2 linked regions of the Homo sapiens genome follow. The protein of the gene in region 1 interacts with the protein of each later gene in a biochemical or structural test. Each region holds a gene or a part of one and is shown on either strand. Other genes may lie near its edges.

Region 1 (6,681 bases):
GGAGCCCCTGTGGACGCAGCCACAAATGGGCCAGGTGCGGAGGGACCCCAGTCCACAGCGGCCAGGGGGTCCTGGGGAGCAGCTTTAAAAGTGGGACCAGCAGGACAGTCAAGGCTGGTGGCCTCAGGGACTTTGGACTTGGCCAGCCTGGTGACACCGGAGCAGCTCTGGAGCTGTGGCTTGTCCCCACCACACCAGGCACGGCCCTCCCCTCCCCACACAGGCAGCCGGAGACACCGGCCCTGCAGGGGGGGTCGCTGCCCTCCCCACGCTCCTGCGCCCAGCGCTCTGCAGTGGGCCCTCGACGGCCTCCACGGCCGCGTCCCAAAACCGCCCTCCCCACGCCCCTGCGCCCAGCGCTCTGCAGTGGGCCCTCGACGGCCTCCACGGCCGCGTCCCAAAACCGCCCTCCCCACGCCCCTGCGCCCAGCGCTCTGCAGTAGGCCCTCGACAGCCTCCACAACTGCGTACCAAGCACAGTGACCATCCACTTTTGCCCCCCAGCCAGACCTCAAACACCCAGAAGTGAGAAGAGCTTTCAGAGTGGTTTTATCATTAAATTAATATCTAATCACATAATTCAAAGATATAAAAATTGGAATGTAGAAGGTGGGGCAAGCCCCTCCCTCAGGACTGGAGGCGGCAGCAGGGACAGAGCCGCACTGAAGCGGGTGAGCGTGCGAGAAACATACAGCCGAGCAGGCTGCCCCGAACACTCAGTCCAGGGTGGAAGCATCGCCCCGGCACCCCCCAACCCCCGAGCCCACTGCGCAGCCCACAGGAAGAGTGCAGGCTTTTCACATTTCAGAGGGTGGGGTGGGGTGGGGTGGGGCGGGGTGGGCCCCTGGCTTTGGGCTGCCCTCCAGCAGCCCCTGAAGGACACAGGCGGTGATGGTGGGAGAAAGGCCCCCTCTCCCAGGGAGGCCTCCTTGTCCTGAGCTTGGGCTGAGGTCTCTGTTCCAGTAACAGATGCTGGTTTTGTTTTGTTTTTTTTTTTAAGACAGGGTCTCGCTCTGTCACCCAGGCTGGAGTGCAGTGGTACCATCAGAGCTCACTGCAGCCTGCGCCTCCTGGAGTCAAGCGATTCTCCTGCCTCAGCCTCCCAAGTAGCTGGGATTACAGGCGCCCGCCACCACGCCCAGCTAATTTTGTATTTTTAGTGGAGACGGGGTTTCACCATGTTGGCCAGGATGGTCTCGAACTCCTGACCTCAGGTGATCTGCCCGCCTCGGCTTCCCAAAGTGCTGGATTATGGGCGTGAGCCACCACGCCCGGCAGGATGCTGGCTTTTAGTTCATTTAAATAGAAAATAAACCTGAACTCCACAGACACCATCCAGAGTGATTACAGGTGGCGTCCAAAGGTCAAAGGGCAGCCTCCACAGGGTTTCCTTCCTGGTTCTGAGACTTCCCAGGGACAGCAGAACTTCCTTGCACTGGTCCCAAGGAAGCCCCTCTTGGCCACCCTGAGAGGTGTTCCTGTCCCCAGATGCCCAGGAGGAGCAAGAGTGTGGGGACCGGCCCTTGCCGTTCCTCCTCCAAGTCCACCCACTTCCTGCCCCAGGGAGATCCTGAGGCCAGGAGGCAGGCTGGCCCAGGCAGGCTGATGGCGGAGGGTGGTGGGGAGGGTGGGGGGGCCCTGGACTTTCCCTCCCAGTCCTGGCACCTTGCAGGTGGAGAGGGCTCTTCAGGAAGGCATAGTTGGCCTCCTGCAGACGCGCACCTGGCCGGCAGGCACGAGGGTCTGCTGAGCCTCGCAGAAGTCCAGGAGGCTACGCCAGAGGGGGCAGCAGCGCAGAAGGAGGTGGTCTCCTGTGAGGGTGGGAGTCAGATGGGAGTCAGTCAGGGTCAGGTGGGAGGAGTCAGGGTCAGGTGGGAGGAGTCAGGGTCAGGTGGGAGTCAGTCAGGGTCAGGTGGGAGGAGTCAGGGTCAGGTGGGAGGAGTCAGGGTCAGATGGGAGTCAGTCAGAGTCAGGTGGGAGGAGTCAGGGTCAGGTGGGAGGAGTCAGGGTCAGGTGGGAGGAGTCAGGGTCAGGTGGGAGGAGTCAGGGTCAGATGGGAGTCAGTCAGAGTCAGGTGGGAGGAGTCAGGGTCAGGTGGGAGGAGTCAGGGTCAGGTCGGAGTCAGGGTCAGGTGGGAGGAGTCAGGGTCAGGTGGGAGTCAGTCAGGGTCAGGTGGGAGGAGTCAGGGTCAGGTGGGAGGAGTCAGGGTCAGATGGGAGTCAGTCAGAGTCAGGTGGGAGGAGTCAGGGTCAGGTGGGAGGAGTCAGGGTCAGGTCGGAGTCAGGGTCAGGCAGGAGTCGGCAGCTCCCTAGCCCAGCCCTGGCCTCACCTGTGTTCCCACCCTGGAAGAGCCCAGCCCCGCCCTCACCGATCAGGCAGAGCCCCTCCTGGGCCCGCGTGACAGCCACATTCACTTGGTTGGGGTCCACAACGAAGCCCAGAAACTTCTTGAGCCAGCTCTTGGTGGGCCGCTGGTCCAGGTCGCTCTTGGCACAGGTGCGGACGGTGCTCACCAGCACATAGCGCCACTCGCTCCCTGCGGGATGGGAGGTGAGGCCCTGCTGCCGCTGCGCCCACCCTCCCGGCCCCACCCACGAGCCCCCAGCCTCACCCTGGCTCTTGGTGATGGAGGACACGGCCACCCCGGCGATGCCCTCTCGCCGAAGGGCCTTGCTGATCTCAGAGGCCTGCGCGTTGTAGGGCGTGAGGACGGCGATGTCCTGGGGCTCTACGGTCCTCCCCAGGGTCAGCTGCTTGGTGATACGGACCTGAGGAGCCGAGGGGGCAGGTGGAGCGGACCCTGGTGTCTCTCCTGCCCTCCTCCAGGAAGCCCTCCCTGACTCACAAGCACCAGACACTCACCACCTCAGCCACCTCCTCCAGAAAGCCCTCCCTGACTCACAGGCACCAGACACTCACCACCTCAGCCACCTCCTCCAGGTTGGCCTTGGAGTTCTCATTCCCTTCGTCCGTGGACACCAGCAGGCTCCGCTCGTGGCCCTGCACGTGGCCAAAGATGACAGGGCAGCTCTCCTTGCCAGCGTGGCCCAGGACACTGGGCGGCCTCCTCAGGCCCTGCCACGTCTTCAGCTTGCTCTTGTAGAACGCCACAGAGGGGAAGGCACAGATGCCCTCATGCTGCAGGCAAGGATGTGCGCTGGTCAGAGGCTGCCACGCGGGGTTGTGGCCCCCCAGGGGCTGCAGGTGGGCTGGGGGCTGAGTGGGGCGGGCTCACCATGCGGTACTGAGTGTCCAGCATATGTGCGTCCTCGTGGTACCGCTCGAACAGAGACCGGTCCAGACCCAGGTTTTGCAGCCGCTCATTCTTGACCACAGGCCGCAGCTGCTTGTGGTCTCCGAGAAGAACCACCTGGAGGAATAGGCAGGCCTGGCCCTGACACCCCTAGACCCAGAGGGACCCCAGCCCCACACGACACCCGCGTCTGCACACACAGGGCACCCCAGGTGGGAGACTGTGCCAGGGACGCCTGCTCATGCTGCCCACACCCCCCGCCGACCAACCTTCTCGGCCTGTGGGAACTGCACCAGGGGGATGAGGGTTTCAGGTTCCGTGGCCATGCCTGCCTCGTCAACAAGGATCTGCCTCACGTCCAGGATTTTGAGGCTGGCAGAGGCTGCACAGGAGCAGGTGCAGAGGATGACCTCATGCCGGTCCAGCTCGAACTTCCGAGCCTCCCACAAGACCTTCTTGTACCTGCCGGGGACACTGCTTGTCACCCCAGGGCCCCCATGCTGCAGGCAGCTCCACCCCCTGGCCCCTGCCACTTACCAGACCAGGTCCTCCCTGGAGAAGAGCTCCCCTCTCTGCAGCCGGGTGTCAAAGGCCTTGATTTCCGACGAGTAAGGGTTGGGGGCCTGCCGGATCCGGTGGTGCAGGGTGATGCTCCTGGGGGACAGGACACAGTGAGCCCTGTCCACGCAGGGCCATCACGGGGGCAGAGCTCAGTGAGACCCACCTACACAGGACTGTCTGGACAGCTCGGCCCCACTCCGCCCAAGCCCCAAAGACAGCAGGCACACCTGAGGCTCTGGTTCGGCCTCCCCTCCCGGGGGCTCTTCCTGAGCAGCTTCCTGCTGCCCACACGCGGCACTGGGAACTCGCTGGCCTCAGCCTGCTCACTGTACACACGGAGGGGCTTCAGCTCCATCCTTCTCAGGAGCAGTCCTGAGGGTAGTTGGGGGACGTGAGTCCTGCCCCGCGTGCCAGCTCCCCAAAGGCCCCCACCGCCGACCCCGGCGCACCTGCCAGGACATCCACCGACTTGTTGGAGGGGCCGCAGTACAAGATGCAGGGACCCCCCAGCCGCTTCTCCCCACGGGGGGGGCCTCCGGGCTGCACCTGCTCCTGGTTTGATTTATGAAACCAGAATACGATGTGGAGGCCCACGATCGTCTTCCCTGTACCTGCAGCCAGAGAATAGGAGATTGTAGCCCACCCTGTGGGTCCCTGTGGCCCAAGGCAGCCTGCGGCTCCCCCGGCATGGGCCCTACCTGGTGGGCCCTGAATGACCGTGAAAGGCTTCTCCAGAGCCTCCCTGACCGCCACGTTCTGGCTGGGGTTCAGCTTGTGGCGGCCTCCGGGGATGTTGTAGGTCTGCCGCTCCAGGAACCTGCTGGGGATCACTGAGAGGGGGCAGCCTCCCTGAGCACTCATGCAGGGTGGGGCTGGGGGCCAGAGGGGAAGCTGGAGGGGTGGGGCAGACCTACCTCTGCAGAGGGGCTGCGGGACAGGCCGGCCCAGTGCGATGCTGGTGACCAGCGGGGACGCCTCCTCTAGTCCACGCACGGCTTCCTCCTTGCGGCTGGGGGTGAAGGCAGACACTGGAAAACCAACAGGACTCCCAGGAAAGGGGCTGCTGCCCCACGAGCTCCCCCCTCCTGCAAGTGAGGGGCCCGGGGCGGTCCCCCAGCCCAGCCTCTGCTGGTGGAAGCCACTCACAGATCAGGAAGCTGCTTGGGCAGCAGCTCAACGGTGAACAGGGTGCCCGGCCTCAGCACCTCTTCCGGAACCTTCTCCATGCCCATGTGGTGGACGAAGAGGTGCACCCGTCTGGGAGCCTCCTGCCGGTCTGCCCGGCGCTCCTGGTCCCAGTCCTGCGTCTGCCCGTGGGCCACCCAGGTATACGTGCCGGGGTCAACATTCAGGCCAGGGCCGAGGCTGCTGGGCCCAGGGCGTGGGCTGGCCGTGGGAGCCGGCAGCCCCTCGAGCCGGATGCAGAGGTAGCAGCAGCTGAAGTTGATGTCGGCACAGTTCTCCTCGAGGAAGGCGGCCTCCAGGCGGAAGGCGCCCTGCAGCTGCCCCTGCGGCGTCCGTGACGCCTCCCAGGAGACACTCAGGTGCTGAAGTGTGACGGAGTCATTCTCGGCAACCGCGCCGGTGGCCGACTCCAGGGCGCAGAATGGTTCCCACACGCAGGCGTACTCATCCACGTCGCGGTACCGGTCCCTCGGGGCCCGGTACACACGGCCTGAGAAGCAGTCTCCGGGCCGCTCCACGTGCTCCAGGCAGAGGCTGAAGCCCGGTGCCACCGTCCAGAGCTGAGGGCTCGGTACCAGGAAGCCGTGCTGCAGGCTGGTGCCGAGCTGCACCTGCAGGGTGTCCCCACTGCCCAGCTCCCGGGCCACCTCCAGGAAATGGCCACAGTGGCTCCGCTGCACCTGCACCAGCTCCCGCCGCTGGGACGCCTCGCCCTTCTCCTGGATGAGAGCAGCCGCCTCCGGCCAGCGCTGCAGCTCCACCAGCTCCAGCAGCTGCTTCCACAGGGCCGTCTCCACGGCCAGGGTGTGTGGGTCCGGCACAGTGCCAGGCAGTGGCAGGGGCGGGCTGGATCCCTGCGCTGAGTAGACACGGCGCCGCCACAGGAGCCGCAGGCCCGGCCGGCCTGCCAGGGCGTGGGGGTGCTCGGCCAGCTGCAGGGAGCCGTAGGGGACGGGGCAGGGGTCAGGCAGCGTCTCCCGGTTGCTGGGGAAGAGCAGCCGGAAGCAGCGGGAGCCCGCCTCCACGTCCACCACGAAGCCCAGCTTGTCCAGAGGCTGGGCCTTGAGCTGCACGGCCAGGTGCAGGCTGCGCGCCCGCCGCTGATAGCTCTGGGCAAGTGCGTGCTGGAGGCTGAAGGCCTGGCAGAGCCCATCGATGTCCCTGGCAGAGTAGGCAGAGCCCCCATGGCCCAGCGCCAGCAGGATCTGCCGCTGCAACACCACGTCCAGGTACCTGCGGATGGGCGAGGTGGCCCACGTGTACCAGTCCACCTGCAGCGAGTAGTGGCCGCCCTGCTGCTGGTGGCCCCGGGCGCAGCGGCCGAACGCCGAGCGCTCCAGGGCCTTGCGGAGGTCGCGGCCTGCAGGAGCCAGGAATGGGTGCATGTCGTCCGTGGTGACCAAGTCCACCATCTGTTCGTAGTCCTGGGTGCGGGCAGCAAACTGGACCTGCTTCCAGAGGGAGGCCAGGAGGTGCAGCCGCGTGTCGGGGGGACTGCCCCCGCCGCCGTGCAGGTGGTGGCCGAGGTGCAGTGACAGGGGCACCCGGTCCCCATGCTTCTCACACAGGGCCTTGAGCTGCTGGCTGCGGGGTGCTGGCTGCCACCGCAGAGGCGTGACCGTCCGCGTGCACTCGCTGCCCACCAGGAACTCAGCCACGAGCCTATTAAACTGAATCATGTA
Region 2 (7,027 bases), on another chromosome or scaffold:
GCCTCGACCTCCTGGGTTCAAGCAATCCTCCCACCTCAGCCTGCAGAGTAGCTGGGACTACTGATGTGTGCCACCCCGATGAACTAATTTTTAAATTTTGTGTACAGACAGGGTCTTGCTATGTTGCCTAGGCTGGTCTCGAACTCCTGGGCTCAAGTGATCCTCCCACCTCGGCCTCCCAAAGTGCTGGGATTCCATGTGTGAGCCACTGTGCCTAGCCTGATTACAAAAACCAAAACGGACTAAATTTGTAATTTTTAAAAAAGGATGTCCTAACCCTAACTTTCACTTTTTTCTAGTGGAAGTCTCACACTGTGTCCTTCCCACTCTCGCATTTTCATAATGCTGGTCATGGGACCCTTATCAATCCTAATCATTCTTAAAATAATAATGACCTCAGAAGAGCCAAATTTTCTAAAGATGGGGGAGAGGCATCGACGATACCTCCAGGTGCCCAGCGACTCCCTGGAGGCGGTGGTCCTGGCAGTTCCAGTCCAGATCTAAAAATTCTCAACAGGACAATTTATCTACCAGGTGGACAGAGAGAGAAAGTGTTTCCAGGTCCATATATTCTTGACAAACTACCATAATCAACGCTGCCTTCCCAGCTGGACTGAGGTTGGTAAGTTGGTTTTGAAGGCTAAAACAAAAATTTTAGATGTTGAAAAAACTACCTTACATACAAAGGAGACTTAACAACCTAAACCATTGTAAAAAATAACCAACTCTTGTGAAATCTGCCATTTGAAGTAAAACTGCCATTTGAAGAAGACTCTACCCCCTCTCTCGATCCGCAGGGTGACTGGCTCCCACCCAGCCCAGGCTATGAAGACACATGTGCCTCGTCTGCGCTCCAGAGAGCATCTACTGTCACCAAGAGTTAAAACAATAAAACATCATATCTTTAAAAGCAACATAACAAAAGATACGGGAGCTGCCAAATGGGGCCCGGAGGAACACTGACAAGTAAGGTGTCAGTCTGTCCCTAAGAACACCACCATTCCCACAGACAGCTGGACTGGGTGGGTTCAGGTTGACTGGACGGAGCTGAGTGGAGCAGGAAGCTGGCGGGCTTCGGGAGCTTGTCTCGTCCCGCTTACCACGGGTGCTAGCTTATGACAGTCCAGAGCGGGGGTCTTGAGACTCTGTTTTCTGGGCTCTTCTACGCAAACCTGGAAATGGGCCTTTCCACATATTAGTTACAACCACGAAAACAGTGAGCCAAAAACAAAACAACAGCTGCATTTTGATAGCTTATCTAACAGATTTTTTTTTTGTTTGTTTGTTTTTAAGACAGAGTCTCGTTCTGTCACCAGGCTGGAGTGCAGTGGTGCAGTCTTAGCTCACTGCAACCTCCAACTCCCTGGTTCAAGCAATTCTCCTGCCTCAGCTTCCCGAGTAGCTGGGATTACAGGCATGTGCCACCACACCCGGCTAATTTTTGTATTTTTAGTAGAGACAGGGTTTCACCATGTTGGCCAGGATGGTCTCGATCTGCTGACCTTGTGATCCACCCGCCTCGGCCTCCCAAAGTGCTGGGATTACAAGTATGAGCGACTGTGCCTGGCCCAAACAGTTCTTTAAAATTCTCCATCCTATGATTAAAAAGCAGCATGTTGTCTTTCTTTAGATTCAGGAAACAGAAGTGAAGTCTTTGAAATAAATATTTTGCTGCTTTTTACATACTTCACCTTTGGATACATCTAGACTTATAGGATTATAAACATTGTTAAAAAGTGCTGATTAGTTTTCAGAATTATAAAGGAGCACAATAGTCAAAAGCGGGGTGAATGGGAAGACAGGCCACGAATTTTGAGGTTACCAGTTAATTAAATGGTAAATCACGAATGTGATCTAAAGCAATGTGCATTGATTAACATCGGGTGAGTTAAAATCAGACCATTGAGCATAATTCGCCGTAATCTTCCCAGTCCTGAGATTAGCCACCTACCCCCAGCATTTGAGTTCTATGCTCTTAGAAGTACTGGTTAAAACAAAGATATGGAATAATATGCCGGTTACCTACAGCTCAGACTGTCCAAGCTCTAAGGTTAAAGTGGTGGATATTTGTGCAAAATCGTGCTGCTCCCCCGTCTCCTTTGTAGTGCTGTCAGCTTCAGAACTCCTGGAAAAGGTGTGGCTGATCTGAAGGAACTCAGTACATGTCCCTGTAGATCTCCTGCAGTAGCGGGTGCAGCGCAGCATCCGACTCCGTCTTCTTGATGATCTGCACCAGCTGCGCATGCTCCGTCACCAGCTGCCGGAGGTCTGCCATTTTTTGAAGAAGTTTTGGGAAGAGAAAGATATCGTCCGGGTGGTTGCTCTGCAGGTGGAGTCTGAGCACATGTACAATACCCTCCTGCATTTTTTCAATGTGTCCTACGTTTAGAAGGCCAGGACGATCTAGTCTCGAAAGAAGAGAGAGAGGTTTGAGTGTGATAATCACCCAAGAACTGCTTATCAGTTTCAGGAACCAAACATGCCTATTTTATGTGGCCTTTCTTAGAAAAAAACTGAGCTGCCTTTAGATATTGTCAACTTGACTGGAAGATAGACATAGGTTTTTCCAAAGTCAATAGGTGAAGTAGGGACAGACAGGACCAGTACTCTTTCCTAAATATTCATACTACTAGGCGGCAATAGTGCCCTAAGTACACCTTATGGTGCGGCCTTTTCACTTGTGATTTACCTGATGACCACCTGTCAGGGAGAAAAATTAGAGCTAGTAGGAGGAACAGTACATTCTGGAGATCACAACCACCAGTTTTGCATAATATGGGAAATGAAGCTTTTGAATCCAAACTAGATATCAAGCTTCAAGTGTTCCACCATATTTAAGGAGTGATTGTGTTAGAACTAGGTTTTGTAGGCCAGGCACGGTGGCTCACGCCTGTAATCCCAGATACTCGGGAGGCTGAGGTGGGAGAATCGCTTGAACCTGGGAGACGGAGATTGCAGTGAGCCAAGATCAGGAGACCCAGAGTGGGGAGGAGGGTGGGGCAGGTCTGAGACTTGGTGCAGGAAGAGTCAACATTCACACCAGATGACCTGCCTGGGGTAGCTGGCACTAGACATCCTGGGACAGTCTCAAAGCATGAGACCTGATTCTTGGTCCAGAAAATACTGCCCTGAGCCATGTTCAGCAGGCGGTGCTCCCTTACAGACCCAGTCATTACTATGATTCTTAACAGGGTTGCTAGTGATGAGGATTTAAACATCTTCATTGTTTTTGGTTGTAAATGTAATTATTAAGTTTTTATTTCTAAAATTCTTGTTTTTGTATTGTTTTAGTGATGGGGTCTTGCTCTGTTGCTTAGGCTGGACTGGAACTCCTAGGCTCAAGCAATCCTCCTGCCTCGGCCTCCAGAGTGGCTGGGGCTATAACTATTAAGTCTCTAAAGAGAGGAATTATTGCCGGGTGCAGTGGCTCATGCCTGTAATCCCAGCACTTTGGGAGGCCGAGGTGGGTGGGTCACCCGGGGTCAGGAGTTTGAGACCAGCCTGGCCAATATGGTGAAACCCCATCTTTACTAAAAATACAAAAATTAGCCAGGTGTGCTGGCATGTTCCTGTAATCTCAGCTACTCAGGAGGCTGAGGCAGGCGAATCACTTGAACCCAGGAGGCGGAAGTTGCAGTGACCTGAGATCGTGCCACTGCACTCCAGCCAGGGTGACAGACGGAGACTCTGTCTCAAAAAAAAAAAAAAGGAGGAATCTTTTGAAAAATAGAAATCCCCCCTCATAATTTTAATCCCACCATAATAGGTTTAACATATATCTCACTGGACATTTTTCTATATACATAGGATTGATATAGGATTATAATTTCCTTTATAAAACTGTGATCATGCTACATATAAATAGTTCTGCAACTGCATTTTACCCACAATGCTACATCCTGACCATACTAAAGGACAAATTATGCATAACTGCTTTGTCTTTGTACACTTTATGCCAGAGCGCAAGGACTTCCTTCATCTGACTTGTGCCCAGCCACACAGTAACGGGCACGGCTGGTAGGGCTGAGTCAGCTCCATGCTGACAGTGAGTCAATCCCCCAGGCGCAGTATGGCTGCAGGCAGTGTGGGAGACCCCATCTGTCTCCACCAACCCTGGGTAAGGTCAGCCGAGTTTGCAGTAGGTGGATGACCTTCCTAGACCTGAGATGGGGCTATTTAAAGGAACGTGACACCGAGCCAAAAATGTGGAGGCTGCAGAGCCAGCTTCCACAGAGAGGACCAGATCGGCCTTCCCTGGGATCTGCTTCCTCGGGCAAAGCAAACCTTGCAGTCACTGCCACTTGGCTGCTGACTGATATTATATTTTGCATTAGGAAATATACTTTTCATCAACATAACCAACTGTGACAGCAACTATACTGACATCTGTATAGCACTTCATACAATATTGTCTATAATATGAATACAACATCATTATATAATATATACAGGAATATCATAATATATAAATTATATCTGTTTATAATATTAGATATAATATAAACGAAATGTGTGTGTGTGTGTGTGTGTATAATTTTTTTTTTTTTTTTTTTTGAGACAGGGTCATTCTTCGTCGCCCAGGCTGGAGTGTGGTGGCGTGACCTTGGCTCACTGCAACCTTTGTCTCCTGGGCTTAAGTGATCCTCCCACCTCAGCCTCTCAAGTAGCTGGGACTACAGGTACATGCCACCATACTTGACTAATTTTTTCTATTTTTTTTTTTGTAGAGACGGGGTCTTGCCATGTTGCCCAGGCTGGTCTCAACCTCCTGGGCTCAAGTGATCCACCCACCTCAGCCTCCCAAAGGGCTGGGATTACAGGCCCATGTCCGACCTCTTTTTCTCTATATATATATTTGTGCAAAATATATAATTTTTTTTTAAAGAAATAGGTCTTGTTCTGTTGCCCAGGCTAGAGTGCAGTGGTGCATTCATAACTCATTGCAACCTGAACTCCTGGGCTCAAGAGATCCTTTTGCCTCAGTCTACTGAGTAAGTAGCTGGGACTAAAGGTGTGCACCCCCACACCTGGCTAATATTATGATTAAAATGTCATACATTTACATAATATTAAATATGTATTTATAGATAATAACAATATATACTATAATATTATACAATATTGTTATAATTCCCACTGAATTCTCAGCAGTGACTGGGGGTCAGACGTCTTCCCACCATGTGAGTGTCCCCTCCACTGGAACAGCTCAGGCTGGTACTGGATTTCCCATTGTCAAATTTTTCAAGACAGGAGCCTGTCAGTGACATGATACCAGCAGATTAAATCAACCACTCACCTCCACAGCAAATGATAGCAGCCACAAAAAGGGAGATATCACTGTCATCCAGTTCCAGTGCATTGAACTTCATGGCAAAATCAAACTTGGGTTCCATGATATCACAGAACGGTTTCCTTAGGCTTTTTAGGAATTCACGAGTTATAAACCCATTTCCATACGCTACCAGCATCCCGTCTTTGTTCATCACAGAAGACAGCATGGCGAATATGGCCTCATAAACTCCGTATTTTAGCAATGTCACTTGATCGTTCAGGTCCAAGTTTGCGAAGCCTGGGATGGCCTTGGCGAATTCCGTGAGCTCCGTGACGGTCTCCACTGACGTGCACTGGCAGCAGTGAAAGATGCGGACCTCCGCCTCCTTGTTCTGGATGCCATTGGCCACCAGCTTGGCCACCAGCGTCTTCTCAGCCATACACAGTGTCTCCATATCATGTATGACAAAAGGCTACAAAGGAGGACACCAAGGTAAGTCAGGTGATGTGGGATGCGCTATGCTCCCAGCTATCAGCTCACTAATGAGCAGCTCCTGCGTCCAAATCACCAAGCTCAGTGCCTCAGAGGACTCAAGATACCCGCGGAACATAGTCCTTACTCAACTTCAAAATCGGTTGGGGAAAATAAGACATTAATAGAGAACAAACAGTATAAATCAGTAAAATAATAATAGTCATCGCCTGACATTGGGTGGATTTCATCGCTAAGAAACTGAAGTACTGGGCTGGGCATGGTGGCTCACGCCTGTAATCCCAGAACTTTGGGAGGCTGAGGTGGGTGGTTTACCTGAGGTCAAGAGTTCGAGACCAGCCTGGCCAGCATGGTGAAACCCCGTCTCTACTAAAAATACAAAAAAATTAGCTGGGTGTGGTGGCGGGCGCCTGTAGTCCCAGCTACTCGGGAGGCTGAGGCAGGAGAATGGCGTGAACCCAGGAGGCAGAGCTTGCAGTGAGCCGACATTGCGCCACTGCACTCCAGCCTGGGTGACAGAGCGAGACTCCGTCTCAAAAAAAAAAAAAAAATTAGCCAGGCATAGTGTGTGCCTGTAACCCCAGCTACTCGGGAGGCTGAGGCAGGAGAATCGCTTGAACCTGGGAGGTGGACGTTGCAGTGAGCCAAGATCGTGCCACTGCACTCCAGTCTCCAGTCTGGGCGACAGAGCGAGAGTAAGACTCCGTCTCAAAAAAAAAAGAAACAAGAAACTGAAGTACTGATTTTGTCAAAACAAAACTAACGAGGACATTAGCAAAGCACCTTTAATATTCTTAAATATTCTCTGAACTAATGACTATTGCAAGAGGCTTAATTACGATCATTCTTAATTTTACCAGTATATGCACTTTAGGGGTGAACACCATTATTTAACGCTGCTCAATGAATACATTTGGCATGTAAATACATACAACTCAGAAAGGTGGCATCTATGTAGAAATCGGCAAACAAGCGTTGTGAAACTCTTTAGGGATAAAGTGGAAAAGCCTCGGAATGCCCTTGTTTCTCTCAGTGCAGGAAACTGAAACCTTCACTCGGTGCTCCATATTCTGGAGCAAGTGCCAACTCCCCACAGCCGTGCCTTGTGTGCTCCCATGCCATCTGCATGTAAACCCAGTGGCCTGCCATTTCCTGAAGATCTCGTGGTGGAAGAGGTGGCTGGCCATATTATTTGAAGCCAACATGCTCAGAAGGGATTACATGTGTGGGAGAGCCGGGGAAAATGAGCACAAACACTGCTGT

The links. Proteins that work in one complex are often made in the same cells at the same time.
Region 2: the proteins of HELZ2 (region 1) and PPARA form a complex in vitro, tested with the Homo sapiens proteins (one study listed by BioGRID).

What each region holds. Positions count from the first base shown.
Region 1 is NC_000020.11:63,557,560-63,564,240, forward strand, and holds the end of HELZ2 (3'-5' exoribonuclease HELZ2), read right to left. Parts: coding exon 4,961-6,681; intron 4,824-4,960; coding exon 4,729-4,823; coding exon of another isoform or gene 4,645-4,728; coding exon 4,513-4,644; intron 4,426-4,512; coding exon 4,264-4,425; intron 4,187-4,263; coding exon 4,042-4,186; intron 3,908-4,041; coding exon 3,791-3,907; intron 3,716-3,790; coding exon 3,523-3,715; intron 3,371-3,522; coding exon 3,236-3,370; intron 3,139-3,235; coding exon 2,920-3,138; intron 2,769-2,919; coding exon 2,612-2,768; intron 2,537-2,611; coding exon 2,369-2,536; intron 1,812-2,368; coding exon 1,687-1,811; 3' UTR 527-1,686; downstream 1-526. UniProt on the Homo sapiens protein: Can degrade highly structured RNAs through its concerted ATP-dependent RNA helicase and 3' to 5' exoribonuclease activities. Shows a strong preference for pyrimidine over purine residues for its nuclease activity.
Region 2 is NC_000022.11:46,230,509-46,237,535, reverse strand, and holds part of PPARA (peroxisome proliferator-activated receptor alpha), read right to left. Parts: intron 5,745-7,027; coding exon 5,297-5,744; intron 2,404-5,296; coding exon 2,156-2,403; 3' UTR 1-2,155. UniProt on the Homo sapiens protein: Ligand-activated transcription factor. Key regulator of lipid metabolism. Activated by the endogenous ligand 1-palmitoyl-2-oleoyl-sn-glycerol-3-phosphocholine (16:0/18:1-GPC). Activated by oleylethanolamide, a naturally occurring lipid that regulates satiety.